Regions from separate parts of the Homo sapiens genome. Here region 1 is linked to region 2. The links come from fine-mapping of genetic effects on gene expression. A gene starts in region 2. The other region holds a variant in brackets. All regions are shown on one strand. Distances are between the middles of the regions.

What was found. PIP is the estimated chance that this variant, and not a neighbour inherited with it, causes the effect.
Region 1: its variant is fine-mapped to the expression of ITCH in whole blood (INTERVAL, PIP above 0.99). The same link has a PIP of 0.9 or more in blood mononuclear cells.

What each region holds. Positions count from the first base shown.
Region 1 is chr20:34,332,310-34,342,202 of GRCh38, forward strand. No RefSeq gene overlaps it. Among named protein-coding and RNA genes, the nearest start is that of ITCH, 26 kb to the right of the region's middle. RefSeq lists enhancers at 5,951-6,060, 6,111-6,160. The variant G/A (reference allele first, on the strand shown) is at 6,221.
Region 2 is chr20:34,358,273-34,368,165 of GRCh38, forward strand. It overlaps ITCH (itchy E3 ubiquitin protein ligase), which reads left to right and starts at 5,001. Exons shown (of 25, transcript NM_031483.7): 1 at 5,001-5,077. RefSeq lists a silencer at 5,306-5,535.

The DNA.
Region 1 (9,893 bases), 26 kb before region 2:
CCACCCCCACCCCCACATCCCCTCTCCGCTGTGAGCTGTTCCGTCACTCCGTAAAATTATCTGCCCTCATCACCCTTCAGTCCTCCACGTGACCTCATTCTTCTTGAACACTGGACAAGAGCTCGGGACCCACCAAGTGCGGGTACCCTGAAAGGCTGTCACACTGGCCCTCTGCCCTTCTAGGACGGCAGCTACCCCACGTGACAGGGCCAGGGGCCGACTGAGCTGCTAACACACCGACCATCCAGGGGGCTGTGGACAGTGGAACTAAAAGAGCTAATTAGCACACTAATACCCTCTCTGGGGCTTCAGGGTCGCAGGCATCCTTGCCTGGATGCCGCCATGTCCCCCTTGAGGCAATACACCTGGTGTGTCCACGGGCCCGCATGGAGCTTGCTCCTGTGTCAGTGCTTGGAGTGGCTGGCCAGATCCCGCACTCACTCACGTGCTCCCTCCTGTAAGGGGGTGAGTGCGGCAGGCCAAGTAGACAGGGCGCCCCTGCCGTGAGTCCAAAAAAAGAAAAGGCTGAGAAATATCCTGCATCAGAAGGATATAAACCACATTTATGACCTGTTATCTCTGGGGCAAGGATTGGCAGAAAGGGGCTGAGTGTGGTGGTTCACACCTGTAATCCTAGCACTCTGGGAGACTGAGGCAGGAGGATTGCTTGAACCCAGGAGTTTGAGACCCCCCTGGGCAACATAGTGAAACCTCGTCTCTGCAAAAAAAATAAACAAAATTAGCCAGGTGTGGCACACACCTGTAGTCCCAGCTACTTGGGAGGCTTGGGAGGCTGAGATGGGAGGATTGCTTGAGCCCTGGTTAAGTTGAGGCTTCAGTGAGCTGAGATTGTGCTACTGTACTCCAGCATGGGTGACAGAGCAAGACCCAGTCTAAAAAAAAAAAAAAAAAAATAGAATTGGCAGAAAAGCCAAAAGAGAAATGTTGCTTTTTTTCCCCTGGACTCTGGTCACTAACTACCTATGTGATCTTGAGCAGACTGTAGCACTTCTGTGCCTCAGGCTCCCCATCTGTAAAATAGGGACACATTCGTAGTTACTTGATAAATGGTTGTAAGGATTAAGTGAGTTAACATACATAAAACATGATAAAACATGAATAGTAGTGCCTGCTACAATGTTGGAATTAAATTTGTTTTCATTCTTCTGTGACTTTTCATGGTACTAATGGTACTAAATAATCTCTGTCTTGCTGGGCATGGTGGCTCACACCTGTAATCCCAGCACTTTGGGAGGCCGAGGTGGGTGGATCACCTGAGGTCAGGAGTTCAAGACCAGCCTGACCAACATGGAGAAACCCCGTCTCTACTAACAATACAAAATTAGCCGAGGTGGTGGCACATGCCTGTAATCCTAGCTACTCAGGAGGCTGAGGCAGGAGAATCGCTTGAACCCAGGAGGCAGAGGTTTCAGTGAGCCGAGATCGCACCATTGCACTCCAGCCTGGGCAAAAAGAGTGAAACTCTATCTCAAAAATAATAATAATAATAATAATCTCTGTCTTGATCAGAAGTTGGGGAGAGTCTCCCCTCACCATTCCTTCAGGGTCTTATGCGGAGGAAAAGCTGTTAAAAAAAAAGTGTAAAGGTCAAAAGTAATAAGGAAATCATGCCCTCTGCAGGGAAGCAGCCACCATACCCAGCCCACACGGAACGTGGCTGTGGCTGAGCAGTGCCCCCAGCTCCTGGGTGGGCCTCTCCTCCCTTCTAAGAGTTTCTGTAAAAAGATTTTTGAGTTAAAAAAAAAAGTGCAAAGGATTATATTGGAGACAGAGGGTTAAGACAATGACGCTAGGATAAAGACAAGCCTGTGGGTGGTGGAAAAGACTGGGTTGTGGGGTTGAGGGGGGTCCAAGATCCAGTAGGCCTAGAATCCAAGAACAGAAGCTAATTATCCTAGTTCATCAAATTTAAGATCCATCATTGTAATATACACCACTATTTTATGTTCTTTTTTTTTGAGACAGAGTCTTGCTCTGTTGCCAGGCTGGAGTGCAGTGGTGGCGCGATCTCGGCTCACTGCAACCTCTGCCTCCCGAGCTCAAGTGATTCTCCTGCCTCAGCCTCCCGAGTAGAGTAGCTGGGACTACAGGCATGCGCTACCATGCCCAGCTAATTTTTGTATTTTTAGTAGAGACGGGGTTTCACCATGTTGGCCAGGCAGGTCTCAAACTCCTGACCTCGTGATCTGCCCACCTCGGCCTCCCAAAGTGCTGGTGGCACAGGCATGAGCCACCACCCCCGGCCTATGTACTTTTTAAATGCTGCAATTAGCTTATTATGTCATTAACTGTTACATGCATTCCAATTTCAAAGATATTAAAAGGTAAACAAATGTGCATCATAGAATCATTAAAATATGAGTCCCTAAGCACTGAAATTGGAAACAATGCCCTTGCCCCAATTTTTTAAAATGTCCCTGAACTGTAAAATAAATAAACATAAGGGGATTTCCCCAAGATGATTACTTTTAAGTTTTATGAGGGAAAATGGTAAATGTCAAATTCTGTCCCTAAACCATATCTCATCTCTTTTGTTCCTCTGTAAGGGCTGAATCAGCCTGTTGGGTGACCCAGGCCTGCCCTGGGGGAGGGAGGAAATCCACACAACTGAGTCCTTTGAGCCTCTCCCCTGCCCTGAGTTCAGTAGCAGCTGGAAAGGGGCCCAGCTTTATGGGGGAACAATGGTGCCAGCCAGCTTCGGGTGAAACAAGGCTGAACAGCCTGGCTGGGTCTGGCCTGGGTCCAGAAGAGTGCCCCTTGCACCTGAGGGGTCCGCTCCCCTTCAGCAAAGGACAGATGAAGCCAGGGAAAGTGGAGAAAGAACTCCCTGGGCTTTCTCCGTGAACAGCTCTCTACGTAGAATCCCAGAATCACCCAGCCAGAGGACCTCAGTGTCCATGGAATCAAACTGCTCCATTGTACAGATGGGAAAACAAAGGCCCCAAAGGGGGCTGGAGCTTGCCTAAGGTCCTTCAGTAAGTCAGTGGCAAAGCTGGAGCCACAGTCAGGTTCCCTTTAATTCAGCATGTCTACCATTAAGTGCAAGTCTGTGCGATCTTTTGCTGTTTTTTGTTGTTTGTTTGTTTCTGTCTTTTAAAAATGCCCAAATTGGCTGGGCGCAGTGGCTCACGCCTATAATCCCAGCACTTTGGGAGGCCAAGGTGGGTGGATCATTTGAGGTCAGGAGTTTGAGACCAGGCTGGCCAACATAGTGAAACCCTGTCTCTACTAAAAATACAAAAATTAGCCAGCGTGGTGGTACATGCCTATAATCCCAGCTACTCGGGAGGCTGAGGCAGGAGAATCGCTTGAACCTGGGAGGCAGAGGTTGCAGTGAGCTAAGATCACGCCACTGCGCTCCAGCCTGCGTGACAGAGAGAGACTCCTACTCAAAAAAAAAAAAGAAAGAAAATGTCAAATTATGTTGCTTGTACAAAATGTCTGTCTGACACATCAGATAGTGTCTGACTCACCTGCCCATTGGAATGAGAAGCTCAGGATCTCAAGCATGAATGCCTCCAGGATAGAGGAGACCTGTGGGTACATGCCTGCCCCTACTCCTTCAAACTAATATTTACTGTGACATAGTAACTTCCTGGCTTCAAAGCTCACCTCTAACGCTTCCCATGTATGTGACCTTGGGCAAATTACTTATCATCGTGGTAGTGGCCTCCAAGATGGCCCTCAATGATTCTCTCTTCCTACATAACCACCAGGCTACTGCAGAAACAGGTGTGACTTCTGAGGCCAGGTCAGAAAAGACAATGCAAGGCTGGGCACAGTGTCTCATGCCTGTAATCCTAGCACTTTGGGAGGCTAAGGTGGGAGGATCACTGGAGTCCAGGAGATTGAGATCAGCCCAGGCAACATAGCCATAAAACGAGACCTCACCTCTACTAAAAAGAGAAAAGAAAATTAGCACCTGTGGTCTCAACCTACTTGGGAGGCTGAGGTGAGAGAATCGCCTGAGCCCAGGAAGTCAAGGTTGCAGTGAGCTGAGATGACACCACTGCATTCCAGCCTGGGCAATAGAGCAAGAACCTGTCTCAAAAAATAAAAACAGCCAGGCGCAGTGGCTCATGCCTGCAATCCCAGCACTTTGGGAGGCCAAGGCAGGCAGATCACGAGGTCAGGAGTTCGAGACCACCCTGACCAACATGGTGAAACCCCGTCTCTATTAAAAATACAAAAATTAACCGGGGGTGGTGGCACGTGCCTGTAACCCCAGCTACTCAGGAGGCTGAGGCAGGAGAATTGCTTGAACTTGGGAGGCAGAGATTGTAGTGAGCCAAGATCGCACCATTGCACTCCAGCCTGGGCAACAGAGCGAGACTCCGTCTCAAAAACAAAACCAAACAAAAAAACAAAGAGACTGCAGCTTCCATCTTGCTCTCTTGGATCACTTGCCCTAAGGGAACTTAGCTGCTATGTTATAAGCACACTCAATGTTATATGCTATGTTATAAGCACAGCCCAATGCAGGGACACACACAGCAAGAAGTAACTGAGACTGCTTGCCAACAGCCAACTGCTTTGCCAGCCGTGTGCACGGGCCCGCTTGAAACTGTATCCTCCAACCCCAGTCCAGCTTCCAGATGACTGCAGCCCTGGTCAACATCTTGAAACTTATGAGATGTTTCTGGTGAGAATCACTCAACTAATCAGCTCCTGAATTCCTTGCCTATAGAAAATACCTGAGGTAATAAATGTTTATTGCTGTTTTAAGCTTTGTAGTTTTGGGGTAATTCCTGACACAGCCACAGACAATGAATACAATCACACTTTGCCTCCTTTTCCTTAAAATGAGGATGATGGGAGGACTTGCTTTATATAATCATGAGGATTCCATATGATACATGAAAAGAATCTGGCTAAGCTGGGTGCAGTGGCTCACGCCTGTAATCCCAACACTTTGGTAGCCCAAGGTAGGTGGATCGCTTCAGCCCAGGAGTTTGAGACCAGCCTGGGCAACACAGTGAAACCCCGTCTCTACAAAAAATACAAAAATTAGCTGGGCATGGTGATGTGCGCCTATAGTCCCAGCTACTCGGGAGGCTGAGGTGGGAGGATCGCTTGAGCCTGGGAAGTTGAGGCTACAGTGAGCTGTGATTGTACCACTGCACTCCAGCCTAGGCCACAGAACAAGACCCTGTCTCAAAAAATAAATAAACCAATAAATAAAAATAAGAAGAGTCTGGCTCATAGCAAATGCACAGCAGATAGGAACCAATATTGCTGTATTATTATATGGTCTCCACTAATCAAGAGGAGAGGTTGAGAGCTATATGAGGAAGGGCCAAAAGGAAAGATGAAGTAGCAACCCCCAGTCTCTTCATTTTCCTGGCAATTCAGCTCTGACTACATTTTCATAGAACCTCCTAAGACAGAAGCCCCATGGGGAAACTTGATCTCCCTAGAAGGCAGTGTAGGGACTATTTATCACTCTGCAAGCATTCCCCTTCGGGTGCTCAGTCTTCATCATCCCCACCACTAGAACTTATCAACTAATTTCTTGCTTATCTACTAGGAGTCCCCAGTCAACAGAATTGACTCCATCTCAGCACTTTCCAGGGACATTCCCAACCTCTGGAAGCTATCCAACAAAGGCTTCCTTTGCTCCTTAATTTATCTCTGAGAAGCAGGTTTAAATTTTAGCTCTGCTGGGTTGGGCACAGTGGCTCACACCTGTAATCCCAGTGCTTTGGGGAGGATGAGGCAGGCAGATCACTTGAGGTCAGGAGTTCAAGACCAGCCTGGCCAACATGGGGAAACCCCGTCTCTACCAAAAATTAGCTGGTCCTGTGATACACTAGCCTGTAGTCCCAGTTACTCAGGAGGCTGAGGTTAGAGGATCACGTGACCCCGGGAGGTGGAGATTGCAGTGAGCTGTGATGGCGCCGCTGTTCCCTAGCATGGGTAACAGAGTGAGACCCTATCTCAAAAAAAAAGACCTAAACAAAAATTTTAGCTCTGCTACCGATTTGTCCTTTGTCAAGTTACTCAACCCCTTGAGCCTCATCTCCTCGTCTGCCAAGCAGAAATAGCGAATATTTGCTTCCGGGTTGTTGGGGGAAGAAAATGAAGCAAGACAGCAAGGTATGAATGCTTTATTGGATGGAAATAATAAATTGTCAATGCCTCCGGACTCTCAGGTGCTGCTCAACGCCCTGCCCTGCCCCAGGAAGCTTCTCCCCACAGC[G/A]GAAGCCACTTAGCTCTCACATGCAGGCTCTGCCCTGTGCTGGGCTTGACACCAACTTTGGTGGTTTTTGTTTTTGTTTTCAAGATGGAGACTCGCTCTGTTGCACAGGCTGAAGTGCAGTGGTGTGATCTTGGCTCACTGCAACCGCCACCTCCCGGGTTCAAGCAATTCTTCTGCCTCAGCCTCCTGAGTAGCTGGGATTACAGGCGCCCGCCACCATGCCTGGCTAATTTTTGTATTTTTAGTAGAGACAGGGTTTTACCATTTTGGCCAAGCTGGTCTTGAACTCCTGACCTCAAGTGATCCACCCACCTCAGCCTCCCAAACTGCTGAGATTACAGGCATGAACCACCAGGCCAGGCCTCTGTTTTTTTTGTTTGTTTGTTTGTTTTGGTTTTTTTTTTTGAGACAAAGTCTCCCTCTATCACCCAGGCTGTATGTAGTGCAGTGGCACGATCACAGCTCACTGTAACCTCCACCTCCCAGGTTCAAGCGATTCTCGTGCCTCAGCATACTGAGTAGCTGGGAATACAGGCTTGCGCCACCGCATCCTGCTAATTTTTGTATTTTTTGTAGAGACGGGGTTTTGCCACGTTGGCCAGGCTGGTCTCGAACTTCTGATCTCAGGTGATCCACCCGCCTTGACCTCCCAAAGTGCTGGGATTACAGGCATGAGCCACCACTCCTGGCAGCTTTGTTTTTTAATCAGGGAACTTTTTTTTTTTTTTTTTTTGAGACAGAGTTTTGCTCTTGTTGCCCAGGCTGGAGTGCAATGGTGGGATCTTAGCTCACCGCAGCCTCCGCCTCCCAGGTTCAAGCAATTCTCCTGCCTCAGCCTCCGGAGTAGCTGGGATTACAGGCATGTGCCACCATGCCCGGCTAATTTTGTATTTTTAGTAGAGATGGGGTTTCTCCATGTTGGTCAGACTAGTCTCGAACTCCCGACTTCAGGTGATCCGCCCGCCTTGGCCTCCCAAAGTGCTGGGATTACAGGCGTGAGCCACAGCACCTGGCTTAATCAGGGAACTTTAACCAGATTTTATCTCTTTCATCAGGGGTTCAGCAGTAACTAGCATATGTGCCTGACTGAATGCCTCCTTCTTATGACCAAGGCCAGCTTAAGATAAATTATTTTTATTCCTATTTATTTATTTATTATTTATTATTATTACTTTTTGAGATAGAATCTCACTCTGTCGCCCAGGCTGGAGTGCAATGGCGCGATCTCGGCTCACTGCAACCTCCGCCTCCAGAGTTCGCGCCATTCTCCTGCCTCAGCCTCCAGAGTAGCTGAGACTACAGGCGCCCGCCACCACGCCCGGCTAATTTTTAGTAGAGACGGGGTTTCACCGTGTTAGCCAGGCTGGTCTCGATCTCCTGACCTCATGATCTGCCCACCTCAGCCTCCCAAAGTGCTGGGATTACAGGCGTGAGCCACCGCGCCCGGCCTATTTATTTATTTTTGAGAAGTGGTCTTACTCTGTCACCTAGGCTGGAGTGCAGTAGCGTGATCATGGCTCACTGCAACCTCGACCTCCTGGGCTTGAGTGATCCACACCACTGCACTCCACCCTGGGCTACAGAGCGAGACTCCGTTTCAAAGAAAAAAAAAAAAGGAAGAAAGAACTCAGGGTTGGCAGAACAAGCTGTAGTGTCTCTGCCTTGCATCCTGGCATCTCCTCTGGCCTGACTCCCCAGGGTGATTTTAGGAGTTGTTCCTACCTATGCATAGCTCCCAATACTATGGCTTTGCCCCTCATGGAGATTCTGTGAGCCACCCAACATCCTGTAATAACTCTTTCCTGTTTAAACTGAAGTGAGTTGGTTTGTTTTGTTTGCAACTAAGAATCTTGATTGACACACTGCATAACAACTCTATCAGTATGTGTACCATTTGTATTATTTTGAAATAATTTTTTATTTAATTAGTTTTTTAAAGTAATGACAGTCACTTGTGAAGCCACCATCCCAAAATAAAATGTAGAACCTTAACAATAACCTACATCTGACTATATACCTCCCTCCCCACCCAACCTCTTTCCCAACCCTAGTAACCATCCTCCTGAACCTTATGCTCATCATTCCCTGTTGCACATTATTTTTAATTTTCTGTTGAAATATAATATACATATAATAAACTGAGCAAATATTAAGTGTACAATTCAAATAATTTATGTGTGTGTATAGATTTTTGTGTAACCAAATCAACATATAAACATTTCCCGCCAGGTGCAGTGGCTCACTCCTGTAACGCCAACACTTTGGGAGGCCGAGGCGGGCAGATCACCTGAGGTCGGGAGATTGAGACTATCCTGGCTAACCCAGTGAAATCCTGTCTCTTTTAAAAATACAAAAAATTAGCCAGGCGTGTTGGTACATGCCTGTAATCCCAGCTACTCAGAAGGCTGAGGCAGGAGAATTGCTTGAATCCGGGAGGCGGAGGTTGCAGTGAGCTGAGATCGCGCCATTGCACTCCAGCCTGGGCAACAAGAGCAAAACTCCATCTCAAAAAGCAAACAAACAAAGAAACATTTCCCATCCCCTAGAAGCCTCTCTTGTGATCTCTCCCAGCCAATTCCTGACACTTGAGAGTTACCAGTATTCTTACCTCTGTCACCCTAGGTTTGTTTTGCCTGTTCTTTTGTTCTTTTTTTTTTTTTTTTTGAGATGGAGTCTCACTCTGTCACCCAGGTTGGAGTGCAATGTACAATCTCGCCTCGCTGCAACCTCTGCCTCCTGGGTTCAAGTGATTCGGTGATTCTCCTGCTTCATCCTCCCAAGTAGCTGGGATTACAGGCTTGTGCCACTACGCCCAGCTAATTTTGTATTCTTAGTAGAGATGACGTTTTGCCATGTTGGTCAGGCTGGTCTTGAACTCCTGACCTCAGGTGATCCGCCCACCTCTGCCTCCCAAAGTGTTGGGATTACAGGTGTGAGCCACCGCACCTGGCCTGTTTTGCCTGTTCTTAAAACATTTAAACAAAGTAGGCCTGGCACAGTGGCTCATGCCTGTGATCCCAGCAACGTAGGGTATATTTTAGTACAAGGCGGAAGGATCACTTGAGCTCAGGAGTTCAACACCAGCCTGGGCAACACAGCAAGACCTTGTCTCTACAAAAACTTTTTAAAAAATTAGCCAGATGTGGTGGCTCACGCCTGTAGTCCCAGCTACTTGGGGTGGGCTGATGTGGGAGGATCACTTAAAGCCAAGAGTGCAAGGGTGCAGTGAGCTATGATCACACACTGCACTCCAGCTTGGGTGACAAAGAGAGATCCTGTTTCAAAATAAATAAATAAATAAAATAGTAAAGTATATTTTTTATGGTATGCATTTTTTTGGTCTGGCTTCTTTCACTATCATTATGTTTCTGTAATTCTCCTGTTTTTGCAAGTAGCAATAGTTGTTCTTGTTTTTTTTTCTTTCTTTTTTTTTCTTTTTTTGAGATGGAGTATCGCTCTTCTTGCCCAGGCTGGAGTGCAATGAATGGCACGATCTCGGCCCACTGCAACCTCCGCCTCCTGGGTTCAAGTGATACTCCTGCCTTAGCCTGCCGTGTACCTGGGATTACAGGCGTGCACCACCACGCCCGGCTAATTTTTTTTTTGTATTTTTAGTAGAGATGGGGTTTCATCATGTTGGCCAGGCTGGTCTCCAACTCCTGACCTCAGGTGA
Region 2 (9,893 bases):
CTCACTGCTCATTATATGCTAATTATAATGGATCGGCATGCTAAAAGACACTCCCACCAGTGCCATGACAGTTTACAGATGCCACGGCAACATCCAGAAGTTACCCTATAAGGTCTAAAAAGGGGAGTAACCCTCAGCTCTGGGAATTGGCCACCCCTTTCCTGGAAAACTCATAAATAATCCACCCCTTGTTTAGCATATAATCAAGAAATAACTCTATCCTTAGACCAGCATCTCGAGCCATTGCTCTGACTATGGGGTAGCCATTCTTTTATTCCTTTACTTTCTTTTTTTTTTTTTAGAGGGAGTCTTGCTCTGTCTCCCAGGCAGGAATGCAGTGGCAGGATCTCCGCTCACTGCAACCTCTACCTCCTGGGTTCAAGCGATACTCCTGCATCAGCCTCCTGAGTAGCTGGGATTACAGACGTGCGTCACCATGCCTGCCTAACTTTTTTTGTATTTTTAGTAGAGATGGGGTTTCACCATGTTGGCCAGGATGGTCTCAAACACCTGACTTCCAGTGATCCACCCGCCTCAGCCTCCCAAAGTGGTGTGATTACAGGTGTGAGCCACCACGCTCGGCCTCCTTTACTTTCTTTTTTCTTTTTCTTTTTTTTTGAGATGGAGTCTTGCTCTGTTGCCCAGGCTGGAGTGCAGTGGTACGATGTCGGCTCACTGCAGCCTCCACCTTGCCTCCTGGGTCCTGGTTCAAGCAATTCTCCTGCCTCAGCCTCTGGAGTAGCTGGTATTATAGGCGCACGTCACCACGCCCAGCTAATTTTTGTATTTTTAGTAGAGGTGGGGTTTCACTATGTTGGCCAGGCTGGTCTTGAACTCCTGACCTCGTGATCCACCCCCCTCAGCCTCCCAAAGTGCTGGGATTACAAGCGTTAGCCACCACGCCCGGCCCCTTTACTTTCTTAATAAACTCATTATCGGCTGGGTGCCGTGGCTCATGCCTGTAATCCCAGCACTTTGGGAGGCCGAGGCAGGTGGATCACCTGAGGTCAGGAGTTCAAGATCAGCCTAGCCAACATGGTGAAACTCCACCTCTGCTAAAAATACAAAAATTAGCTGGGTGTGGTGGTGTGCGCCTGTAATCCCAGTTACTCAGGAGGATGAGGCAGGAGAATCACTTGAACCCAGGAGGCGGAGGTTACAGTGAGCTGAGATTGCCCCACTGCACTCCAGCCAGGGTGACAAGAGCAAAACTCTGTCTGAAAAAGAATAATAAATAAATAACTTGTTTTCACTTTATTGTATGGACTTGCCCCAAATTCTTTCCTGCACGAGATCCAAGAACCCTCTCTTGGGGTCTGAATCAGGACCCTTTTCCTGAAACAGTAACACCACCCAGATCAGGGCACAGAACATTATTACCTATCCTGAGAGGTGTCTTTGTGCCTTCTTCCAGGTACACCCTCCCCTCAAAGAGTAACCAGTATCCTGACTTCTAACACCATAGACTAGTTTTGCCTAACCTTACATAGTTTTTAAAATTGTAGGTGAATACAGAATCTGGAGCTACAGGACTTAGGGTTAGATCCCTGGTTCCTGGCTGAGTGATCTTCAACAAGCCATTTAATTTCTGTCACACTCAGTTTTCTTCTCTGTATAATGGTCATAAAAATACCTTGTACTGGCCGGGTGCGGTGGCTCACGCCTATAATCCCAGCACTTTGGGAGGCTAAGGCGGGCAGATCACAAGCTCAAGAGTTCAAGACCAGCCTGGCCAATATGGTGAAACCCCATCTCTACAAAAATACAAAAATTAGTCAGTCGTGGTGGCATGCACCTGTAATCCCAGCTGCTCGGGAGGCTGAGGCGGGAGAATCGCTTGAACCCGGGAGGCAGAGGTTGCAGTGAGCGGAGGTTGGGCCACTGCACTCAAGCCTGGGCGACAGAGTGAGACTCAGTCTCCAAAAAAAAAAAAAGCAAATTCTCAGGCCCTGCCCCAGACCTACTGAATCAGAAACTCTAGGAGTGGCCTCAGCAACCTACAGTTTAACTAACTTTGCAGGCAATTCTGATAAGTACTGAGGTTTGAAAACCACTGCACTAGAGAAACTGAATGAGGATGGGGCGCAGGAATCTGTATTTTAGCAATCTTTCCTAAGGCATGTTGCAGGAAACATGAAGTGGTTTTGAAAGTACTTTGCTTGAGGCTTGAAGGCTTGAACCTAGGAGTTTGATTTTTTATTTTTTTTAGATGGGGTTTCACTCTGTCACTCAGGATGGAGTGCAGTGGCGTGATCTTGGCTCACTGCAGTCTCCGTCTCCTGAGTTCAAGCAATTCTCCCACCCCAGCCTCCCGAGTAGCTGAGATTACAGGGGTGTGCCATGCCCAACTAATTTTTGCATTTTTTTTTTTGAGACAGATTCTCGCTCTGTGGCCCAGGATGGAGTGCAGTAGCACGATCTTGGCTCACTGCAACCTCCGCCTCCCAGGTCCAAGCAATTCTCTGCCTCAGCCTCCTGACTAGCTGGGATTACAGGCACCCGCCACCACGCCCGGCTAATTTTTGTATTTTTAGTAGAGATAGGGTTTCACCATGATAGCCAGGCTGGTCTTGAACTCCTGATCTCGTGATCCGCCCGCCTTGGCCTCCCAAAGTGCTGGGATTATAGGCGTGAGCCACCGTGCCCGGTCTAATTTTTGCATTTTTAGTAGAGATGGGGTTTCACCATGTTAGCCAGGCTGGTCTTGAACTCCTGACCTCAGTTGATCCATCCGCCTCGGCCTCCCAAACCATGCCCAACAAATTTTTGCATTTTTAGTAGAGACAAGATTTCACCATGTTGGCCAGGCTGGTCTCAAACTCCTGACCTCAGGTGATCCACCCGCCTCAGCCTCCCGAAGTGCTGGGATTATAGGAGTGAGCTACTGCGCCCAGCCTTTATGTTTCTTTTGTTGTTTGTTTTTTGAGACAGAGTCTCGCTGAGTCGCCCAGGCTGGAGTGCAATGGCGTGATCTTGGGTCACTGCAACCTCCCCCTCCTGGGTTCAATCAATTATCGTGCTTCAGCCTCCCAAGTAGCTGGGATTACAGGCACCCGCCACCACACCTGGCTAATTTTTGTGTTTTTAGTAGGGAAGGGGTTTCACAAGGCTAGGCGTGGTGGCTCACCCAACTCTACTAAAAATACAAAAATTAGCCAGGCGTGATGGCATGCGCTTGTAGTCCCAGCTACTTAGGAGGCTGAGACAGGAGAATCACTTGAACCCAGGAGGCGAGCGGAGGTTGCAGTGAGCCAAGATTGCGCCACTGCACTCCAGCCTGGGCGACAGAGCAATACTCTGTCTCAAAAAAAAAAAAAAAAAAAAAAAGAGACGGGGTTTCACCATGTTGGCCAGACTGGTCTCAAACTCCTGACCTCAAGTGATTTGCCTGCCTTGGCCTCCCTAACTCCTGGGATTACAGGTGTAAGCCACTGACCCTAGCCAAGCCTAGGAGTCTGAGAACAGCCTGGGCAACACAGGGAGTCCACGTCTCTACAAAAATAAAAACAATTAGGATAGTGTGGTGGCTTGAGCCTGGAGTCCCAGCTACTCAGGAAGCTGAGGTGAGAGGATCACTTGAGCCCAGGAGGTTGGCTGCAGTGAGCTATGATTGCACCGCTGCACTCCAGGTTGGGTGACAGAGCAAGACTCTGTCTCAAAAAAAAAAAAAAAAAAAAAGTCACTTTGAAAAATGTGACTTTCCAGATGGCAAAATACTATTTTCATTAGGAGGAAACAGGCTAAACAGTAATAGCAAAGGTCACTAAGTATTGAGCACTTAGTCATACCTCTGAGTCTCTGCCTGCATAGCCTATTATTTCTCACAAGCAATCCATGAAGAAGGTTAAGACAACGGACTTTCACGCCAGACTGCCTGGGTTCTTATCAAGTATGTGACTTAGTTTATATATTTGTAAAATGGGGATAATAATGGTATTTCTGTAATAGGTTTGTTGTGAGAATAAAGGGAGCTTGGTATCAGCTCTTAGAATACCGGACAGGCCACGTTGGCTCCACTAAGCTGTTGTCATCATCCCTAAGGGCACCCAGTTAAAAGGTAGAAAAGGGAGGATTTGAATCCGGTCAGTGTAACTCTCAAGTGTACATTTTTTTTCTTTTATTTTCTTTTTAACCACGCCCTTTAATGTACATTGTTAAAGGCTAAGCCAGGCCAGGTGCAGTGGCTCACATCTGTAATCTCAGCGATTGGGAGGCCCGAGGAGGGAGTATCGCTTGAGCCCAGGAGCTGGAGACCAGCCTGGGCAACATGGCGACACCGTGGCCCTATTCCCGCCCCATCCCATCCGCACTCCACCCCATCCCCATCTCTACAAAGAATAGAACAAAATTAGTCGGGTGTGGTGGTGCTCAACTGCTGTCCCAGCTACTCAGGAAGCCCAGGTGGGAGGCTCGCTTGAGCCCAGGAGTGTGAGGCTGTAGTGAGCTATGACTGCACCACTGCACTCCAGCCTGGGTGAAGGGTGAGACCTTATCTCAAAAAGAAGAAAAAAAAAGAAAAGGAAAAGAAAAAGAAAAAAGAACAACTAAGTTATAAACTAAGCTATATAGCCCATTGGTTCTCAAATTATGATTTCACTCACTAGCAGTATCACTAGACAGCTTGTTGGACATGCAAATTATCAGACCCTATCCTCCTATGCCAGATCTTCTGATCAGAAACTCTGGGGGTGGGGGTCAGCAGTGTAAGTTTTAATAAGCTCTCTAGGTGATTCTGATGCACACCATAGTTTGAGAATCACAGTCCTTATAGGCTCTGGTGGGCGGGGTGTTAAAAAAAAAAAAAAGCCTGGAGGTGCTGGGAGCCGCTCGCGCCCATCTCACCTGGAGCTGAGGAAAACTGGGATTTAACTGATTTACCACCGCAGCCAGCTCTTCAAGCCAGGGGCGGGCCGGACGGCTGGCGCGCAAGGCCTGCTGGGGCTTGTAGTCTAGACCACTTCCGCGCTCAGGCGCCTGCGCTTTAGCTGCTAACTCGCTCTAGTAGCTGTGGTCGGGGCTCGGGACCGGCTGCCATCTTAGTCTAGGGACTGAGGAGTCGCCGCCGCCCCGAGTCCCGGTAAACCCCCGTGGGCGAACTCGGGGCAGTTCTCGGGAGAGGGAGGGAGTCCGGATGAGAATGTTCGGGGAGAACAAGGGTAGAGGAGTGGGACGCGCGGTTCGGGACCCCAGAGCCGCGGCTGCTCCTTCTTCCAGAGCCGGTGTCTGTCGGGGGCGCGGGGAGCTCGGGCTACTGGCCCGGGCCGGGCGGTGGGGGTGGGCTGTCTGGACGTTCGGAGGGATCAGTGTCTGGCACAGGCTTCCGGAGGCCTTCGCCTCGCGGGCTCCAAGTTGTGAAAGGGCTGGGCCACGACGGGCGTGGGTACCGTCCGGCCCCTCGCCCCTCAGCCCCGCCTGGGGCCACTCTCCAGCGGTTCGGCCTACGCGCGGGGCCCGGCGGCGGGGCCGGCGCGGGCGACGTGGCCCTGTGAGGGGCGGCGGCCGGGTCCCCCGCCACCCAGCTGGCCTTCTCGAGACTTTTCCGAGCCCCCAGTCGCTAGAAGGGCCCAGCACAGCGGCTGCCTCCCCTTCTCTCTCCCACTCGCCTCCTCCTTCCATTGTCCCCCCGGCGTGGTGGTCCCGGCTCCGGCGCCCTCCCCGACGTCCGCCACCGTCGTGGCGGCGCCGACTTTTGCAGACGTGGAGCTGTCACTGCCCTTCCTCCGGAGAGTGCCCTTTTCTTTAGCAGAGAAAAGAAAAAAGTAGCCGTTGAACGTATTCTAAGGGTCGAAGCATGATGACATGACTTTTAAGTGGAGAACTCAAGTTTTCCAAGACAGTTCCCGTCCGCGACAGAAAAGAGAATCGCAGAATTTGTGCGCCCGAAGTAGACGCTGGGCCTAAAGTTAGTTGGACATGTAACCAGGTGAACTTGTAAAGGGCCAGGAATTCATTATCCCCAATAACAACGCAACCTTGTTTTCTTGGTTGTATTCGTATCCTAATCTTATTACATTTTCTGCCATTCTTCCACAGCTACAGTATACTTGGTTTGGAGTGGGGGATGGGGAATTGTGGGATTTTTGCCTTGAAAATTAGTAAGACCCTGGAGCCAGCCACCCACTTAGGTGGGTTCTCCTGCATCTTTTCCTGATAGAATTCGATCTTCAGGAAGTATGTAAAGGCAGTGTATTTCCATTCTCAAAATCGGCTAAGGAATGGTTTATCAGTTGAGGTGAAGTTCTCATGGCAGATCTGCTGAGAGCTTGCTATGTGTATTTACAGGTTTATTTAAGCTACGATTTATTTTTAAAATTAAGAAATGGGCCGGGTGCTGTGTGTGGCTCACGCCTGTAATCCTAGCACTTTGGGAGGCCGAGGCGGGCAGATCATGAGGTCAGGAGTTCGAGACCATCCTGACCAACATGGTGAAACCCCGTCTCTACTAAAAATACAAAAAAAAAAAAAAAAAAATCCTGGGCGTGGTGGCGCGCGCCTGTAGTCCCAGCTACTAGGGAGGCTGAGGCAGGAGAATGGCTTGAACCCGGGAGGTGGAGGCTGCAGTGAGCCGAGATCTCGCTGCTGCACTCCAGCCTGGGCGACAGAGCGAGACTCCGCCTCAAAAAAAAAAAAAAAAAAAAAGCAATGGGATGGGTGTGGTGGCTCACGCCTGTAATCCCAGCAATTTGGGAGGCCGAGGTGGGCGGATTACGTGAGCCCAGGAATTGGAGATCAGCCTGGGCAACATCGTGAAACCCCGTCTCTACAAAAAATACAAAGATTTGCCGGGTGTGGTGGCAGGCGCCTGTGGTCCCAGATACTCAGGAGGCTGAGGTGGGGGAATCACCTGATTCCGGGGGGTCGAGGCTGCGGTGAGCTGTTACCGTTGCCACTGCATTCCAGCCTGGGTGACAGAGTGAGACCCTGTCTCAAAAAATAAAAAAAAAAATTTAGAAATGAAGGTGGAAATTCTACTGCTTCTTTGAACTGTGAATTTAAGTTTTGTGAGTCCAAAAGGAATTCCATTACATTCAGCATACAGGTCAAGTCACCAAGGATATCATATGAAATTAAAAAAATGAGTACAGACTACTTCTTCAGTGTATTCTAGAATCAAACATTTCTACATTCTTTAGAAAAAAATACATCTTTTTCGTTTGTTTGAGACGGAATCTAACTTTGTCACCCAGGCTGGAGTACAGTGGTGTGATCTCGGCTTACTGTAACCTCCGCCTCCCGGGTTCCAGCAATTCTTCTGCCTCAGCCTCCGTAGTAGCTGGGACTACAGGCGCGTGCCACCACTCCCGGTAATTTTTTTGTATTTTTTAGTAGAGATGGGTTTTCACCATATTGGCTAGGCTGCTCTCGAACTCCTGACCTCGTGATCCACCTGCCTTGGCCTCCCAAAGTGCTGGGTTTACAGGCATGAGCCGCCACTCCTGGCCCTAAAAAATACATCTTTTCACTTATTGGGAGAGGCAGACAAACCAGTAGTCCCCAAATTTGACCATTAGAATAATTAGGAGAGCTTAGAAATTCCAGGGTCTTACCTTCTGAGATGGATTTAGTAGGTCTGGGTTGGCTTCAACCAATTTATTTTTAACACATGCCTTAGGTAATTCTGATGGTCTTGGGAACCACTGAGGGCAAATGGTACTGTAGACTTACCAAGGAAAGGTCAAAAAGCTTTGAGACGAAAGAGGAAGTGGCCAATTCTGTGTGTGTGGCTGGGTGGAGGATTGGTTAGAAGAGGCAAGATTTGCCCCTGAACCCACATTGGGTCTTACATGAAGAGTAGGAGTGTGAAAAGGGCGGGGAAAGAGAAGGACAGGGTAGGCTGAGTGAATGCCTTAATGCTGTGTGTAAATTCAGAGGATTATGGAACAAAAAGGGTTCAGGGAGTGTGGAGTGGAATGGGGAAGGAGAGCATTTTGAAACGCAAGGTCAGAAAGGTTAAAGGAAGCAAGTATATGAAAAGTGATTTTTTGTTGTTGAGACTGGGTCTCACCCAGTCACGCAGGATGGAGTGCAGTGACAGGACCTCCAGAGCTCAAGTGATCTTCCCACCCCAGCCTCCCTGAGTAGCTGGGACAACAGGCATGCATTAGCATGCCTGGCTAATTTTTAAAATTTTTTTGTAGAGAAAGGTTCTCTTTACGTTGCCCAGTCTGGTCTTAACTCCTGTGTTCAAGTGGTCCTCCCACCTTGGCCTCCTAAAGTGTTGGGATTACAGGTGTAAGCTACTGTGCTCTGGCTAAAAATTTTAAGTATAATGCTAAAAATTTGGAATTTTATGTTGGTAGAAATAGATACAGGGCTGGGCTCAGTGCCTCACACCTGTAATCTCAACAGTTTGGGAGGCTGAGGCGGGTGAATCGCTTGAGCTCAGGAGTTTGAGACCAGCCTGGGCAACATGGTGATATCCCGTCTTTACCAAAAGGAAGGAAAAAAAAAAGAAATAGATGCAGATTTTTCGACAGGGAAATGATGTGAGTACATATGTGTTTTAGAAAATTGCTGTGTACTGCAGGACAAAGATAGGTATCAAAAAACAAAAAAAGAAAGATTGCTCTGGTGATGAGCGAAAGGATGAGGGACTAGCTATTGCAGAAGTCTAGTTGAGAAATGACAAAGCCTGACCTTGGAGAGAGGTTGTGGGGATGATCAAAGGATTGGATTTAGCTTTTTACTAGTGCAATATTGTTGCCATATTTCTAGATGAGGATTTTTTTTTAGAGCTAATCTGGGTAAAGGGCTCCTTTTCTGTCAAAAGAACCCATTAGCAAGTCTGAATAATATTGCCAGGTTATATATGTTATGTATAGTATGAGAGTGAATTGTTCATTAGCATCTTTGAGAAATTAGAAAGAACTATGTCAGGTGTAATTTGGAAGAGAACTTGAAGTTTGTTATTGTTACTATTTTTGAGATGGAGTCTTGCTCGGCCATGCAGGCTGGAGTGCAGTGATGTGATCTCGGCTCACTGCAACCTCCACCTCCCGGGTTCAAGCGATTCGTGTGCCTCAGCCTCCCAAGTAGCTGCCTCCCAAGTAGCTGGAATTAGAGGTGCATGCCACCAAGCCTGGCTAATTTAGAACTTGGAGTTTGGACTGAAATTTATGCCTCTAAAAAGTATTGATCTAGGCTTGTTGGGAGTGTTTTTCTCTCAGCCTGTAGAAACTTGCTCATTGAGTTTTAGAGTTGGGAGAAGTTACAGAGATTATCTAGTCCATAATGGCAAATATATTTTGGTTTATTGGCCAGCTCTAATTGGAAGCTGCCAGAAGCACTGTGTTTGGAAGGATTCTGGTTGTAGGTGCTCTGAGAAATTGTATTATGGTTGATCAATGATGTCTCCTGTGGACAGTTACCTAGTAGGTAGTAGACATGTGCCAAATATATGCTATTCTTAGATAAGTCCAATCTCTTAGTTTTCTGTTTTGTTGTTGTTTGTTTGTTTTAAAGGTTAAATAATTTACCTGAAACTAGTTAAGAGTAAGAACTAGAACTAGAACTGGGTTTTGCAACTCTGGGACTGGTATTCTCTGGTTTACAAAGATCAATGTGCACTACTGAAGAGCTTCTGGTATTAGACTAGAAAAAGAAAAGGGAGATTTTTAGCCTATGCGTCTTGACTGTTTAGGCAAGAGTTTAACAAGGAATTTTGGCCTAGAAGTAAGTTTTGTTATATTCATTCTGTCTTAAGAAATTTGTGTTAGGGCCGGGCGCGGTGGCTCATGCCTGTAATCCCAGCATTTTGGGAGGCTGAAGCGGGCAGATCACGAGGTCAGGAGATCGAGATCATCCTGGCCAACGTGGTGAAACCCCCATCTCTACTAAAATACAAAAAATTAGCTGGGTGTGGTGGCATGCACCTGTAGTACCAGCTACTTGGG